Regions from separate parts of the Homo sapiens genome. Here region 1 is linked to region 2. Evidence: fine-mapped expression QTL. Tissue or cell type: whole blood. Region 2 holds a variant in brackets; the other region holds the start of a gene. All regions are shown on one strand. Distances are between the middles of the regions.

The links. PIP is the estimated chance that this variant, and not a neighbour inherited with it, causes the effect.
Region 1: OLFM1 starts here. The variant in region 2 is fine-mapped to the expression of OLFM1 in whole blood (TOPMed, PIP 0.90).

The regions. Positions count from the first base shown.
Region 1 is chr9:135,083,763-135,091,863 of GRCh38, forward strand. OLFM1 (olfactomedin 1) reads left to right here and starts at 3,906. Exons shown (of 6, transcript NM_001282611.2): 1 at 3,906-4,377; 2 at 6,433-6,582. The coding sequence starts at 4,228. RefSeq lists enhancers at 2,206-3,066, 3,067-3,927, 4,562-5,366, 5,367-6,170.
Region 2 is chr9:134,962,253-134,970,353 of GRCh38, forward strand. No RefSeq gene overlaps it. Among named protein-coding and RNA genes, the nearest start is that of FCN1, 48 kb to the left of the region's middle. The variant G/T (reference allele first, on the strand shown) is at 3,348.

The sequences.
Region 1 (8,101 bases), 120 kb after region 2:
CAAGGGAGGGGCCCTCTCTGGATCTGTTTTCCTCATGACAGAGGCAGAGAGACAGGGTGTGACTGAGACATTTGGCTCTGAAAGCTGCTCAGTCGTGGCCCTTAGCCGTTCTCCCTCCCGGGGCCAAAATCGCAGGTCACACAGCCACGCCTGATGCAGGTGGTGTTTGGGAGACTGTCAGCTTATGGGAGGTGCTGCCAGGCACAGGGAGCCGGGCCAGGATGGAAATCCTCTCCAGGGAAGGGGGTGAGGAGCAGTTACGCCTCCACCCATGTGTGAACCCAGAGGCCTCAGAGGAGGGGAGTACAGGGAACACTTGGCTCAGAAGACCCATGCTGGTCTTCTGTGGCTGCCGAGAGGGAGTGCCCAGGGGACCTGTGGCTCCTCCCATTCTGCCTGGCTTGAGGCCAGGTCCTTTCCTTGCTCCTGGAATGTTCCAGCACAGAAAGGGAATGAAAAAGCTACATACAACGTAGAAAAAGGAGAGGTGGCTCCATGTGGGACCTCTCTCTGTGTCTCTTCTCTCTCTGTGTCACTCTATCTTTCTTCTCTCTCTCTCTTCTCTCTCTGTCTCTCATCTCTCTCTCTGTCTCTCCTCTCTCCGTCTCTTCTCTCTCTCCTCTCTGTCTCTATTATCTCTCCTCTCTGTCTCTCTTCTGTCTCTCCTCTCTGTCTCTATTATCTCTCCTCTCTGTCTCTCTTCTCTCTGTCTCTCCTCTCTCTGTTTCTCCTCTCTTCTCTCTCCTCTCTCTCTGTCTCTCTCTCCATTTCTTTGTCTTCCTCTCTGTCTCCTCTCTGTTTCTTTGTCTTTCTGTCTCTCTGCCTTTGTCTCTCTCTCTCTCTCTTCTTCTCCCCTTCTCCCTCCCTTTCTTCCTCCCCTCCCCTTGTTTCCCTTCAAGATATTTGCCAATAGCCTGAGGAGAGTATGCGTATTTTTAAACAGCAACCGGGCATCCAAACTTTGTCCCTTGAGGGCATCCTTTGCCAAGGAGCATCGGGAAGTGGCCCAGAGACCTGCTTCCCTCCAAGCAGCCACTCCTGGCTCTGGGACCTGAGTAGGTTTGCATCCTGCGGACCTCACTGTTCTGACTGTGGGTGTCAGTGGTCGTCTGACTGTGGGTGTTGGTGTCGTCTGTGCCCTATCAGCTCACCATGTGGCTGTCCTAGGGCTTCTCGAGGTGATTCCCCAATAGCCCACGTGTGTCCGCCTCTTGTAAGGTCTATAGCAAGCTGGGCAGGAGCACCCTCTCACACTTGCGTCTTCTGAGCTCTGAAGCCGGGAGATGCAGAGGGGGTGTGCTTGTTTTTATGTGTGTTGATGAATTTGTACAGAGTCCACCAAGGTCAAGGCCTGTAGGGGGCTGGCATGAGGATAGAGACGTGGCTGTTCTAACCTGTCATGACAGGGAGGGTGGTGCAGGCTCGTGCCAGGACTCAGAAAGGGGTGGGCAACCTCCTGTCCTTCCCACGAGCGTGGAAGGCAAGGGCCCATGAAATGTCTTCTGGCGGCCTCTGTGGCTCGTGGAACTGTGCGGACAGCCAGGGCTGCTGTGGCCATGCAACTCATGCCACTTCTGGGGCTCGTGAGATTTAACTATGGCCATGACATTTATAAGACGAGGATGCCACCATGTGTATGGGCTTAGCCCTGGAAATAGGCTGTCACCATATGACCTTGGACAGGTCTTATCATCTTTCTAGGCCTGAGATTCCTCATCTATACAGTGGAGTCAATGCCACCACACCATGCACTTCAGTAAGGATTGGGTGCCAGGCATGGCAAAGCCCCAGTGCCACCAGGGGCGCAGCACCTGCCCCATCAGCATCCGTATGATTGTTCAGAGCTGCAGGTGTGATGAGCCCTGGCTTTAAGAGAAGTCGTGAAGAAATTGGGATTGAAAGTCCTCTTTAGGAACACTTGGTATTGCCTGGCGCCATGGATCCCCTAATCCAAATGCCTTCATTCTTCAACGATCCATACTTTCCTTCTGGAATGCTCCATGGCCTTCTAAATCCAATTACACTTACTCAAGCCTTATCTGACGACCCTTTCAAAACCATTATGCCCACTGAATCACAGATTTTAGAAACTGGACAGGACAGTTTGGAGCAGGTGCAGGTTGGAGCCGCTCAGGTGCAGGTTGGAGCCGCTCAGGTGCAGGTTAGAGCAGTCCAAGTGCAGGTTAATCTTTTACTTCGTTAAATAAATAAATGTCTATGGCTTCTGAGATGGCCTGACAGTTTTGTGGATTGGATTGGGTTGCATTTGAATTTGTTCCCGCAGAACAAGTGGTCCTTGTCCTTCCGCAGCGGGAAGCGGCGTGAGTGATCTGGACAGACACGGCTTGTGGCCTTGAATCGGTGTTAAACATGCATGGCCAGAGGAGGGGGGCGAAGCCAGCCCAACCGGACTTGTGTCTCCGCCTGGGCCCAGTCTGTGAGCCGGGCCTGCAGTCCCAGCTTACACTGGGAGATGGCGCCCTTCCCCAACAGTTGGAATTTCCTGGCATCCGACCCAGCCCGGCTGCCTGAGATTACAGCATTAATCAGAAAAGCAGATCTGAGGGGCTCATTTAACTAGCGGGTCTCACACCCAGCACTCAGGCCAGGATCATCTTGGCTGCAGCTGAAGTCTCTTCAGCCGAGGACTGCGCACACAGAGAGAAAAGCCCCAGGAAGGCGTTGTTCCTCTCAGGCGGGCGCCAGGGAGGCGCGCTCCTTCCGGCCCGGCGTCCGTCTTTCAAATCCCATCCAGGAAGGGAGATTAATTTTCGCCCAGGCAGAGAAGAGTGTAGTGAGTGATCTGGAGGATTCTTTCCTTCCCAAATGGCTGGGAAAGCTTAATGGAAGGCCCCGGAGGAAGTGGCTTTCATCTCCGATTAGAAGCCTTCTGTAAATGCAAAAGCCCTATTAACGTGTTTGACCCAGTCAGGCCTGCGCTTCAGGTGGGACTGACACGCGTGAGTCCTGCTGCGGTCGCCGCAGAGGGCCGGGAAGAGGGGCAGCGTGCGCCACTTGCCCTGCCTCTGTGCCTGGGCGCCATGACTCGAGCGCCACCCCTGAGTCAGTAAGGACACCCCCCAACCCACACCCCTCCACCACAGACCCCAGTCCCCGCCCCACACACCCACCTCCCCAACACCAGGTTCATGGGCGTGGTCCCTTCAGCTCCTGAGGTCCAGGCCTGAGCCCCAGACCTTATGCAGCTCCTGCCGGGTGTGCGCCCTCCCAGGGCCCTCACTGCGCACCGCGGGCCACGGCAGACCACCCCAGCCCCCGCCTTGCTGTGCAGGTGTCAGGAGTGCCGGTTGGCTCCCTTCCTCCCAAGCAAGGCCTTAGGGCACCGCGGCTGCCCTGGGATCGCAGGGGCGCCTTTAGCTCTCCACCGATGCCCCGACGCCCCCCTGGCGCTGGAGGCCCTCGCGAGTCTGGCTGCTTTTCGGAGCCTGCCCTGCCTGCTGGGTTTCAGGCGACGGCCCAGGCTGGCTGGGACCCTCGAATCACCGCGGAAAAGGGCTCCAGTAGGCAGGACGGCGCCGTCTCTCTGCCGGCAACCTTTGCCCCAAAGCGGACCCTCTGCGGGGATCGGAGAGGGATGCCCCGGCGTGAGGATGGGAGAAGCCCCGGGACGGGAGGGCCGCGGGCCGTGCCCCCAGCTGGAGTCCCCGCGCCGCCGCCGGGTATTTTATGATCTGGGGGTGGTGGTGTGTCCGTCTCCTCATGTCACCCTGATCCCAACTCCTGGGCGGACTGGAGTTTGCAGACCTCGCTGCCAGCAGCCAGGGGGCGGCGGGGAGCCGAGCGAGAGGAAAAATCCACCCATTTCCTGGGCGGATTGCGTCGGTCCCGCCCGGCCGAGCCCCGCCTCCCGGCCGCGGCCCCCGCGCGCAGCCCGCGCAGCGCTCAGAGCCGGACGGCGCTTCCCGGTGGCGGCGGAGGAGCCCGGAGGGACGCAGCCGGGCAAGGCAGGGCGCAGGGCGGGCGGCGCGAGGCGCAGGGCGCGGCGGGCAGAGGCCACCTGGCCACCTTCCCTGGCGCCCGGGGAAGGCGCGGCGATGGCCGGGGCGCGCGGGGCGGCGGCGGCGGCGGGCGGGCGGCGGCGGGCCGAGGGGGCGCGGGGACACAGCCAGGCGCCCCTGCCCGCCGCGGTGCCCGCCGCCTGAAGGCCGCCTGGGCGCGGGAGCCGGTGCCAGCTCGGAGCGGGCGCTGGAGGCAGCTCGAGGCGCGATGTCGGTGCCGCTGCTCAAGATCGGGGTCGTGCTGAGCACCATGGCCATGATCACTAACTGGATGTCCCAGACGCTGCCCTCGCTGGTGGGCCTCAACACCACCAAGCTCTCGGCGGCCGGCGGCGGGACGCTGGACCGCAGCACCGGCGTAAGTGCGCCCGCCGGCCGCCTTGGCGCGGCTCCTCCTCCTCCTCCTCCTCCCCCTCCTCGGTCCGGAGCCCCGGGCTGGGCGGGCGCCGCGCGGGACCCGAGTCGCCCAGGGAGGCGGCGGGGAGCAGGGCGGGCAAGGGCAGGCGTCGCGGGCCGGCGCAGCGGTGGCGACCCTGCTCCCCGCTCCCCCAGCCTGGGCCACTCCATCTCCGCCCGCGCGCCCCTGGGGCGGCGTTTCCTTCGTCTGGGCCCCTCGCCGCGGGGCCGGGGGAGCTTGGTGGGTTCTCGGAGGCTTGGAGTCCTGGGTCAGTAATCATGAGCCCCCCATTGAAAAGGTTAGGAAACTAAGGCTGGGGACTTGGGGACTTGTCCAAGGTCACACTCAGCGAGTGAGGGGTGGAGCCGCCGCTAGACCCTAGTCTGGGCTCGGTCCAGCGGGGACTGAGCCCGCCCTAGTTTGTAAAAGCCAGACTGGCCGGACCGGGCTGGGAGTGGGGCCCCAGCCGGTGGGCTCCGGAGCTCCTGCCCGCGCCTGCATTCCCAAAGTCCCAAGGCGCCCTTTCCTCCCCAGTCCATAGGAGGGTTTGTTCCTTCTCCTCCGAGGACGGTGCCGAGGGGCTTGGGTGGGGCCCCTGGGAGCCTGCCCTTGGGCGCTCACCCCCTCGCCTTTGCCTTCGTCTTCTGCGCGCACCCCTCCCTCCTGGCCTCTGAAATTGAAATCGCGTCTCCCTCTCGAGCCTAGCGGGAGGGGAACCGTGGCCGGGGCTGCTTCTGGGCAGAGCTGACTTAGATGGCTGAGCGAGGCTGAGCTGAAACCGCCACCCGGAGGGCCGCGCGGGGAAGGGGCCGCTGCCGGGAAGGCGCGCCCCAGACCACTGGCCCTTTAGGCTGAAAGGAGAGGTGAAGGACGTGAGTCTCCCTCCCTCTCTCTTTTTGCTGCCAGGGGTTTAGTGCCCTGCGAAGAGGGCTCCGTGGTGTGGCTCCCTCCTAAGACCCCTCTTGAGGCCGCCCTCCCTGCTCCTTCAGGAATCGGAGGGCGATTCCTCCATGATGACTTTGTTCCGGCCTGCCGGTCCCGATCTTCTGGGGTTGGGAATGAATGAGATTAAAGATATGACTACTATAGATTCTACCCGCCCAACTTCTCCTCCCCATCTTCATGCTAAAAATAGCAGAGAGATGACCTGATGCCACCGGAGGGGAGCGTGCTCAGAGACAGTAGGGCCAGCAGCAGGATGGAGCTGTGTAGGCTCAGGAGTGCCCGCCCCGGTACCTGGCAGGGCTGGGCTGCAAGGTTAGACCAGACATGGGCAGCTCCGGTTTCTTTGGTGATCTTTGGGCAAACCTCAGGACTGAGGTTGGGGGTGACCCCTGCACAGCATGTCACCAGCAATTTGGCGACCTCCACCAAATGGCTCGTGGGGGGAGCCCACAAGGAGCTGGAAACCTAGTGTTTTCTCGGGTCGGTCTGTGCCACGCTGCCGGCTGGGAGGTTGCTGTAGCTCGGGGTTCATCACAGCTCTGGGCGAATAGGCTGCTGGATCTGGGGCTGTTACAGTGGGTGCTTCGTCTGCAAGTGTCAGGGAACGGCAGGGCGAGGCTTGGTGGTGCCAGCCACCCGTGCTTGACTTACGGGAAGGATATCCTGTTTCTGAAATACGTGCCCGCTGCAAGCCACCCAGCGTTTGCTTTCCTGCCTTGCTCCTAGTCCAGCCTGTGGCCTCCAGTTGCCCCTCCCATCCACCCAGCAGATCAATTTGGCCAGACGACAAACTCCAGACATCCCTTGAGTTGAACTTAAATTTTAAGAACGTAAAGGGTCTTGCCTCTTTGACATCCTTCCAGCCCTGAGCCCCCTAACAGGAGACCTGTGCCTCTTTGTTCCCAGGGACCCTTTCTTCCCTTTGGGTCAAACATGTCTTGGGACCATTTCCTCCCATCTTTTCCTTGGGGGTGGATGTGGACAGTTTCCCCTGGTTGTTGGCTCTGATACACAACCTCATGGTCTCCCTTTCTCTCCTTCCCTCTCCCTTCCCGCCCCGCCCCTCTCCAGGTGCTGCCCACCAACCCTGAGGAGAGCTGGCAGGTGTACAGCTCTGCCCAGGACAGCGAGGGCAGGTGTATCTGCACAGTGGTCGCTCCACAGCAGACCATGTGTTCACGGGATGCCCGCACAAAACAGCTGAGGCAGCTACTGGAGAAGGTGAGTCTGCGCAGAGTGTGTGAGTTTGTATGTGTGTGTGTTTGTGTGTGTGTGTGTGTGTGTACATGCCTGTGTGCTCACACCAGCACCAAGGCTTGGCTAGCTTGCAGGCCCCATTTTGACTCTTTCCTGGTTTGTCTCCACTCAAAATATTTGTGAATGAGTGAAAGGGTGGATGGACGGATGGGTGGATGGGTGGGTGGATGGATGGACGGATGGGTGGATGGGTGGGTGGACACACAGGTGGATTGAGACTTCCAAGGGTGGTCCAGGAAGAGAGGACTAGACCTGCCCCCTGTCACCACAGGCTCCACTGAGAAGTCACATGGGCATGGTGAGACGGGACACAAGGCTCGTCTCTGAGTGATGTCATAATCTGTGTGCACAGGGCTGGGGCTGTCACCCAGCAGCTACCTTGGAGAGCGCCCATAGGCCCAGGAATGCATGGCCATTTGGATTTTACGAGATGAGATCTTTTTTCTGCCCTTGAATGGTTGTACCTGGCCAGTGGCTGGACAGGTGCTCATCACCATGAATGCCTTCCTGGGGCTAAAGCAGGCCATGCTGTCACCTTCAGAACCACATGGGAACAGCAGGTTTGCATATGTCGTTTGCATAACATATTTTGAATCCGTTATTTCACTTAATCTTCACAAGAACCATGTGAAGTTGGTGAGATTTTTCACTCCAGTTCAAGAAAAGGAAATTTGGCTCCCAAGGGGTGGACTTATTTGTCCCAAGCCAAACAGCTGTTAGTAGGGAAGTGGGCACTCGGACCCACATGGCCGAGCTCATCACCTGGTTCAGTCTCCTCCACTCCCCACTTTAGTCAGGGGGCCTTCTCCTAATGGGCACAGCCCACCAGCCTTTTGGCACATTCCACCCAAGGACCCCGTATTCTGTGGTTAACCTGGGTTCTGGGGGCCCCATAGGAGAGTTACCAAGGGAACAAGGAGGAATGGTGGGCCCTTCTGTTCCACCCATTGATTCCCCAGAAGAAAGGTGCATTTGCATGTAGTGCCTATGGGCAGGGAACTTTCCCACCCTGAGGGAGTGGGGTCACACCACACACACGCACACTCACAAACACACTCACACATAGTCACACACACACTCACACACAGTCACACACATTCACACATAGTCACACACACATTCACACAGTCTCACACACACATAGTCACACAGTCACACTCACATAGTCACACACTCATAGTCACACACACACACAGTCACACACTCACAGTCACACACTCACACATAGTCACACAGTCACACACACTCACATAGTCACACACACTCACATAGTCACACACACACAGTCACACACTCACACATAGTCTCACACACACACAGTCACACTCACACATAGTCACACACTCATAGTCACACACACCCACACATAGTCACACACACTCACACAGTCACACACACACTCACACATAGTCACACAGTCACACACACTCACATAGTCACACACACTCACAGTCACACACACACTCACACATAGTCACACACA
Region 2 (8,101 bases):
AGGTTGGCTTTCCCAGCCAAAGCCATAAACTTTAATTGGGCTTTTTAAAGACCACAAAAGCAAATATATGCCCTTAAAGAAACCCTTTGGTAACTTGCTCAGAACATAAAGGTGACTATTAGCATGTGCTGATTTGAAATACCAAGAAGAAAATATCTCCCACATCAACATATGCTAGTGTAAGGCATGTCCTGTTTTGCATAGCTCTCACGGTTCCCCACCCTAACACTAGGGCCCGCCTGTCCTAGAGGGCAGCATGCTTGAAATCAGAAGACTGCATTTGGCCTGGCTCCACATGCCCCTTAACATTGTTCTTTTTTGTTTTCTTTGAGACAGGGCCTGTCGCCCAGGCTGGAGTGCAGTGGTGTAATCTTGGCTCACCACAACCTCCACCTCTCAGCAACCTCCGCCCCCCAGCAACCTCCACCTCCCGGCAAACTCCACCTCCTGGGTTCAAGCCATTCTTGTGTCTCAGCCTCCCGAGTAGCTGGGATTATAGGCATACGCCACCACACCCGGCTAGTTTTTGCATTTTTAGTAGAGAGAGAGTTTTGCCATGTTGGCCAGGCTGTTCTCGAACCCCTGACCTCAAGTGAGCCACCCACCTCGGCCTCCCTAAGTGCTGGGATTACAGCCATGAGTCACCGCGCCCGGCCGCTCCTTAACATTGTTGAGCTCCCCTTTCCTCCTCTGCGTAATTAGTAAGATCTCTTCCACCTGCCTCATGGGCTGACTGAGGGAACAACCCAGACAGGGATGATCATGACGGTGCTGTTGGCTGACTGTGGGGCTCGACACTGTGCTCATCACTTTATGCATCTGAGATGGAAATGGTCTCAGCCACAGGCACAGATGGGGAACCCAAGGCAAAGAGAGGTTAAGTAACTTACCCTTGGTCATGCAGACAGTGGCTGAGCCCGAATTCAGCCCCAGTGTCTTTAACTCCAGGTGTGAGGGCAGCGGCTCCAGCACGCGAGGCCCCAGGAGCCAGGCACTGCTCACAGCACCAGGCGTGACCGCAGCGGCTCCAGCACGCGGGGCCCCGGGAGCCAGGCACTGCTCGCAGCGCGGGTCGCTCACGTGTTCTTTGGAGGCAAATCCATGCGGCGTTCACACACACGGACCTTGCAGTTGCTTGCGCCTTTTTTTCTCTCCAACTCATCACAGGGCATGACTTCTCTCCAAGCTGCCTGAAATAAAATGAATAACTTTTTATGTGAAGTTCTTCGTGCTGAAGAGAACTTGTTCCAAATGGGGAATAATTGGCCTTCCAGGGCTCCATACCGGCAATGAAGTGAAAGATGCTGACGTTTCAGAGGTGTGGAAATAAAAGGACTAAAAATGGGATTCGGAGCAGCTAATGAGGGCAGATCCGCAGGGTTTGAGAGACAAAATGGGGATCGCAGGTGGAAGCTGGCACCGCGGCCAGGGGCAGCCCACGCAGCAGCGAGTGGGGCCGAGGTCGTGGGCGGGTGTCCGGACCCTCATCACAGGAACTTGCTGGAACCCCCAGAGGCCCCGGCCTCTGCTGGCTTTGAGGCCTCAGACCTCCCTAGTCCAGTCACGAGCCACCGAGCCCCCTATACGAGTCTGCTCAGCGGCTGTATGAAGCATGTTATGTTTGACGAAGGATTAAACACCAGAAATGTATTGTCCCCGGTTCTGGAGGCTGGAAGTCTGAGATCAAGGGGCTGGCAGGGCTGGTTCCTTCTGAGACCCCTCTCCCTGGCCTGTGGGTGCCATCTTCTCTCTCTGTGGGTGTCCATGTCTTTACCACCCCTTCTCCTAAGGACACCAGTCCTATTGGATTAAGGTCCACCCTAATGGCCCCATTTTAACTTAGTTACCTCTCTGAAAATCCTACCTCCAAATACGATCACAGACTCCAAGCTGCTGGGGTGAGGACTTCAACATGTGAATTTGGGGCGAGGGGCAGCTTGGTTCAGCTCCTAACATGCATGTCAGCCACGCTCTCACTCACTCATCCTTGTTTTGATTCGTTTACATGGTGCATGTCTCCGGTGCCTACTGTGTGCTAAGCTGGGCCAAGACAGAAGCTGCCTGCCAGGAGCCCAGTGCCCAGTGGAGGAGGAGGGATGGAGCAACAGGGCAGTAGGACGGGGTGTGGCTGTGCCCCAGATGGGGAGGAGTTAGCCCTGGCCCCATGTGCAGTGCAGCCTCCGGGTGCCCACCGCTCTGGGACTACAGAGTAGCTCCTTGGACAGTCATGTCTTCAGAACTGAGAGCTGAGATGACCCAGTTGGCCCATATTAGGCAGTTTCCAGTCCAGGAAAGGAGGGGGTGGCATCAAGACCTGAGCTCTGGGGAGCACATTTTGGGGTCCACATTCTTGCTTTGCTTGTGGAATGCCTGCAGGAGCTGGAGGCCACGCCACAGAGCCCTTGGGAGGAGAAACGGCCACGTGTGGAGGGCAGTCTGATGGCAGGTATCCACGCTGAAGATACATGTGTCCTTTGAACCAGCCCCCAGTTCCCTGGGAGAATGTCTCAGATCCCTAGGCAAAGGCACAAAGATCTGGTGTGTTTACTGCTGTAAGAGACAGCCCCAAACCTCGGCAGTTTCTCCCAACATAGAAACCCACAGAGCGATGCTGTGATCCAGGTCCTGCCTGCTCCATGGTACCACCCTTCTCTGGTTCAGCAGACAGAGAGGGAGAGAGCGTGAGGACCACACATGAGGGGTTTTATGGCTGACCAGAAGCAGAACACAGCACTTCCTCTCACCTCCCATTGACCAGACTCCAGTACACACAGGACCGCCTGAGAAACATGTGCACCGGGGGAAGAGAGCGTGGTTGGAACACCAGCCATCTCTCATGCAATATTTATCTAAATTCTAAAATAATTGAGCATTGAATCCAACTGGAACTCCCTGTAGGTGAGGGGTTAAAGACATTTAATGGTGTCACCGGGCATTTGTCCATTATTCACTTACTCAAGAAACATTTATTAGGGCATCATGTTATTTGAAATATAATGCCTAAAATATCAAAACTAATGACACATATCCACATTTCCAGATGCAAGACCTTCTCCTTGACATGTTTAAATGAAAAGATCAGGATTCAACATGGGTTGTATACTATCATCCAATTTATAAAAATTAAATATTTATATCTGCAGGCATAAGCCAGCATAGAGAAATATGGAAAGATTTTCACAGAAATTCTAAGATATGGCTACCATTTCTTTGGTAATCCTCACTTCAAGAGGTGGAGTTCAACTCATTTCCCCTTGAACGTGGGCTGGACCTGGTGTCCGGATGGGTTACAGTGTGGCCTCAGAGTTGGTCAAGCCTGGCATTGCAGCCTCTTCCTGCTTTCTCTC[G/T]TGCATCACTGGCTCTTGGGGAAGCCAGTTGTCACATTGCAGAGACCCAGGAACAGCCCTACCAGGGGCCCACATGGTGTGGACTGAAGCCCTCTGCCCATGGCCAAATGCACCAGCTTGGAAGCAGCTCCTCCCACCCCAGTTGAGCGTTCTGATGAATACTGCCCTGGCCAACAACTTGACTGCAACTTCATGAGAGACCCTGGGGCAGAAGCACCCCAATTCCTGACCCACAGACCCTGAGATAAGAGATGTTTCTTGTTGAAACTTCTATGTTTTGGGTTAATTTGCTGCATGGTAGCAGATGACAAACACACCATCTTTGTGAGGTGATGGGCGGTGACGCTGGCCAGCCACAGCCTTCCCCCATGCTTGCCCTCTGTGTCCACTCAGAGCAGAATCTGAGAAACCCCTGGATCTGGTGCTACCAGGCCTGCCTCCCTGTCGTGCCCAGCCCTTCAGCCATCCCTTTGCAAGGACACATGCCTTGGTGAGTCATTGTAACTATTGCCTCTCCAAGGCCCAAACCCACAGGGACAGGCATCTCCAGCATGGGGCACAGCAGAGCCCTTAGCAAATTCTCAGCAAATGCGCCAAGAAGGAAGGCCTGCAGGCTTCTCTTTACTGTGCAGCCTTCCACGATGAACACGCATGGCTTTTAAAACTGGGGAAATAAAGTTTCTAAAGTAATCGAGCTGATCCAAGGACTCTCACTGATAACTTGAAAGGCTCCACAATGAGCAGGAAGACTCATGGTGACCAGTTCCTGACGCAGCCTCTAGGGAGGTAGCTGAGATGCCAGGGTGGAGCCGCCCTTGCCTTTCTCGCCTCCTAACTGTCTGGACGCAGGGTTGTTTGCCTGGAGTCAAAGAGGGTAAAAATGGGTTTGTTGCTTGGTAAGAAGACCAGGTGCCAATGCACCGAGGGTGAGACAGCAAGCCTAACAGAGCCAGGTGGGCGTGTCCTCCCCTTCGCTGGAACTCCTGCCTGCTGATATCAAGGTCGTCCTGAAAAGGCCGCTAGGGAGTTGGTCTTGATGCGCCTGTGGGCCGAGCAGGTGTCTAATAGCCTGAGGCCGCTGCCTATTTAAGAACCACTTTTCCAAGCCCCCATTTCTCCCATGACAAAGGGAACTCACGGGTGATGCCTGAAGGCCCTGTGTGCCATGGTGGCCAGCACGGTCCAGTCTGTGACCTTGTTCTGGGGGATGGAGAGAGGAGGAGGAGGGGGATCCCAGCCACCTGGAGCCTGCAGCTCACCCATGCCTGCCCTGCATTTAGCAGCCACAGCCCTGGCGGGGGACAATGGCCTTGCCGGGATTGGTGGGCAGTGGCACCAGAAGTCTGGGCTGGTTGCTACCCTCTGGTGGCCCTGGGCCCTCCTTTCTTGAATGTTCGGGCCAGTTCCCTCCTCTGTGCTTCAAGGCTGCTGGTGGACTCTGGGCTCTGCAGATGCCACATGCAGTTCTGGTCTCGGGAACAGCTTTGCAGCTGGGCTTACCTGATGTGAAAGCAATAAATGAGTCCCCCAGTGCCTCCCAGCCCAGACTGGGGCAAGAGGGGTTGCCCAAGGGGTTTGCAACTCACGCTGAGAGCAGCCATCCTGAGAAAAGCCTCTAGCTATGCTGCCCAATTACGCAGCCTCCTTGGGGGCACTGGGCCATCCACATCCCTCAAGTCCCTCAACGGTGACCCAGGGACAAGCCCCATGCCCCCCTCAGAGCCGCTGCACGGATGAAAAGAGGGAGAATGTCCCACGGCAGCGCCCCGCGTGGGATCGCCGGACAGGGGTGCCTTCGCAGGCCGCTGTAGACATGCAGTTTCACATTCATGCTTCACAATTGATCTGTGGGCTTCGTGTGTCCTCAGCTTTAGGAGATACGTCCGGGTGCCCCTCAGCAGTGCCTGTGCCACTTGCCCCCCAAGGGGCAGTCGACCTTCCTGTGCACCCTCAGCTCGTCCTGGTGGAGAGAATAAGGCTCCCCGAGGTGACCCCCTATCTGCGCTATTACTGCTGCCTTCTCAGACCATGAGAAGGAACCCTGAGAAAGAACTTCTTCAGTTTAGAGGGAGTGCGTCTGCGTCTGCAGTAGGCAGTAGCAGCAGGCAGTGGCCTGGGCGTGGGCAGTTGCTGTCAGCTCAGAGCAGGAAACGGGCAGCTGAGGAGGCCAGGCTCCTCGGGCATCTGCGGCTGCGTCTGCCCGCGTGGACATGGGACTCTCTCACTGCAGCCCCAGAGCGCAGCCTCAGCAGAACCAGCCTGCTCACAGCAGCCTCCTGTCTGATTAATCAGGGGGAGGAAGGGCTGCCCATAAGCAGACTCATTTTATTCTAATGCTGCTTTCTCAAGATTTTAATTTTCCATAGTGCTACATTCTAGTCCCCTTTCCTTAAAAAAAAAAAAAAAGAAGAAGAAGAAGAAGAGATATAATTGGGACAATCCTCTATCATATACATGCTATCTTATTCCACCTCGAGGTCTGCTTCCAAAAAGCAATTGTGTGCTACTTAATGGACAAGCACTCAGTGACTATGGGGGTAGAACAGAGCTCAGATTTCAAGATTTCAGCAGGATGTGGGCGGCCTGACTGTTCCCGTGGCAGGAGGGACCATCCTCCATCCCAGCTCCGGAGCAGCTGCCTGGCCTTGCGCAGAGCCCTTGGGGCCCTGTCCTGAAGCTGCTTCCCTGGAATTAATTGCTGCAAATTCCGCCCACCCAATGGCGCTGAAAGTGGGCTGAGCACCTATTCTCTTTCACTTGTCAATTGCAGCAAATCCAACACAGGCTTCATGTAATGAAAGGAAATGAAGACGAGTCCAGGTGGGCTGCGGCCAGTGATGCCTCCAGCGAACCAGAGGGAACTCTGGTCCCTTGGGTGCAGTTTAAATGCTGCCACCCTAGGGACAACCAGGACCTGGAATGTGTCTGGCCAGGACAGTGCAGCATTTCCTGACCCTGTCTAGGAAGGTGGAGGGACCGGAGCATTTCAGCAGCCCATCTCTACGCCAGGAAGGGGACTGGGTGTCCAATGTCCAGGTCTCAGTGTCTCACTGACATCTCCCAGCATGGCTCAGAGAGGCGCAGTGAGCTGCTCAAGGTCACACAGCCGAGGAGCAGCAGAGGGGAAGTCCACCCTCTGTGTGAGTCTCCCGACCCGAGCTCACCCCACCACATCGCAAGGTTGCCAAGGCAGCTCCAGCACCAGAAGGCAAGTTGCTCGGTTCCAAAAACAGTCCCTGGGTCCGGCAGCATAGACTTTAGGCATATCCAGGAGCCAGGACAAAGACACTTCCTGAGGGCAGCCCTAGGGCCTCATCTCTGCAAGATCCAATCATCTGCAGGGGCCAGAAAGTTCTATCGAGGGAAAAGGCTCAGGTCCCATCTCCTTTGCTGACCGTCTGTGACCTCAGCTTGCCTGGCCAGACCCTGTTTCTGCACATGGAAGAGGAGATGGGGGACTGCAGCTGGGGTGTGAAATGTGGACCTGGAAATGCTTGGTAAGCCGCAGCGGCTGACAAATACTACCTGGACGGAGCACAGAGAAGCCCCAGCATCACTCTTCTGGGCGTATACATGGCCGTGTCACTGCCACAGCTCAGCTCTCCACAAGGATGGAGAGGAACAAGCCATTCATCACCTCCTGGGGTGGAATCTTGTTAACTTAGGGCCGATGTCACCCCAGGGAGACAAAGCTGCACCAGGGCAGGGGAGGCTGGAAGGGCCAGGACAGGGGCTTGGGTCTCATCCCCGGGTTTCACAGCTGGAAAAGCCAGATGGAGACTGAGAGGCAGTCTCTGAGGCTAAAACCTGGGCTGGGAACAGAAAGGGGTATGTGAAAGACACCATGTGGCCTAGGACTCAACTTCAGCGGTGATTCCGAGGGAAGCATATCAGCAGTGAGTGTGGGAGTGGATAAGGCACAGGTGGCGCTTGCTGGTCACAACGACTGCTTGGCCCACCTGAAGGCCGCCTCCTCCAGGAAGCCTGCCCGGAGTCCTGCTTCCCAGCTCGTGACCCCAGCTGCCTGCAGATAAACACCTCAACAGGACCCCAGTTGCGGGTTACTTCCCGCAGGCATTTCAGTGGCCCAGGTCCATGGTCCCTGACAGCCCTGATGGGAAAACTCTGTTCTCTCTGCTGCATCAGCACTGTGCACTGGGGATCCTCCAGCCTCCTCCTCTCCCCCTGCATCCTGGGTCCCCCATTGCCAGCCTTCTTTAACCCTGCTCCCCTCTCCCATAGGACCCAAACCCCGCCTGTGATCTCTACTTTCCAGGACCCCAAGGTCTCCTGCCTGCTTTTCACGACTCCAACTGAAGGACCTTGCCCTGGAGTGAGGGCAGCCAGGCTGGTACCATGTGGCCTGAGGTGGGGGCTGGTGCTGACTGCCCTCCTCATAGGATGTTTTCCTGTGATCACCCTCAGAGCCCAGAGAGGGGCTTGTGCCCTCCTTGCTCACAGGCACCTGTGGCTTCTCCTGGGAGGCCAGGTCTCCTTGCCTGGCTGTTCCCTGTTCGCTTTCCTCCTCTCCTTTTCTTTCCTCACTTGACTGGGAGCTTGGCGAGGAGGTGAGCTGTGTCTTCTCTCTTTCCCCAGGTTTACTCATTCATAGTATGTGGCTTAGGGCACATGAACTATACTATGAATGCATGCATGAATGAATGAATGCGCGAATGAATGTACGAATGAATGAATCATAAGTGAATGAATGCACAAATGAGTGCATGAATAAATGAATGAATGCATGAATAAAT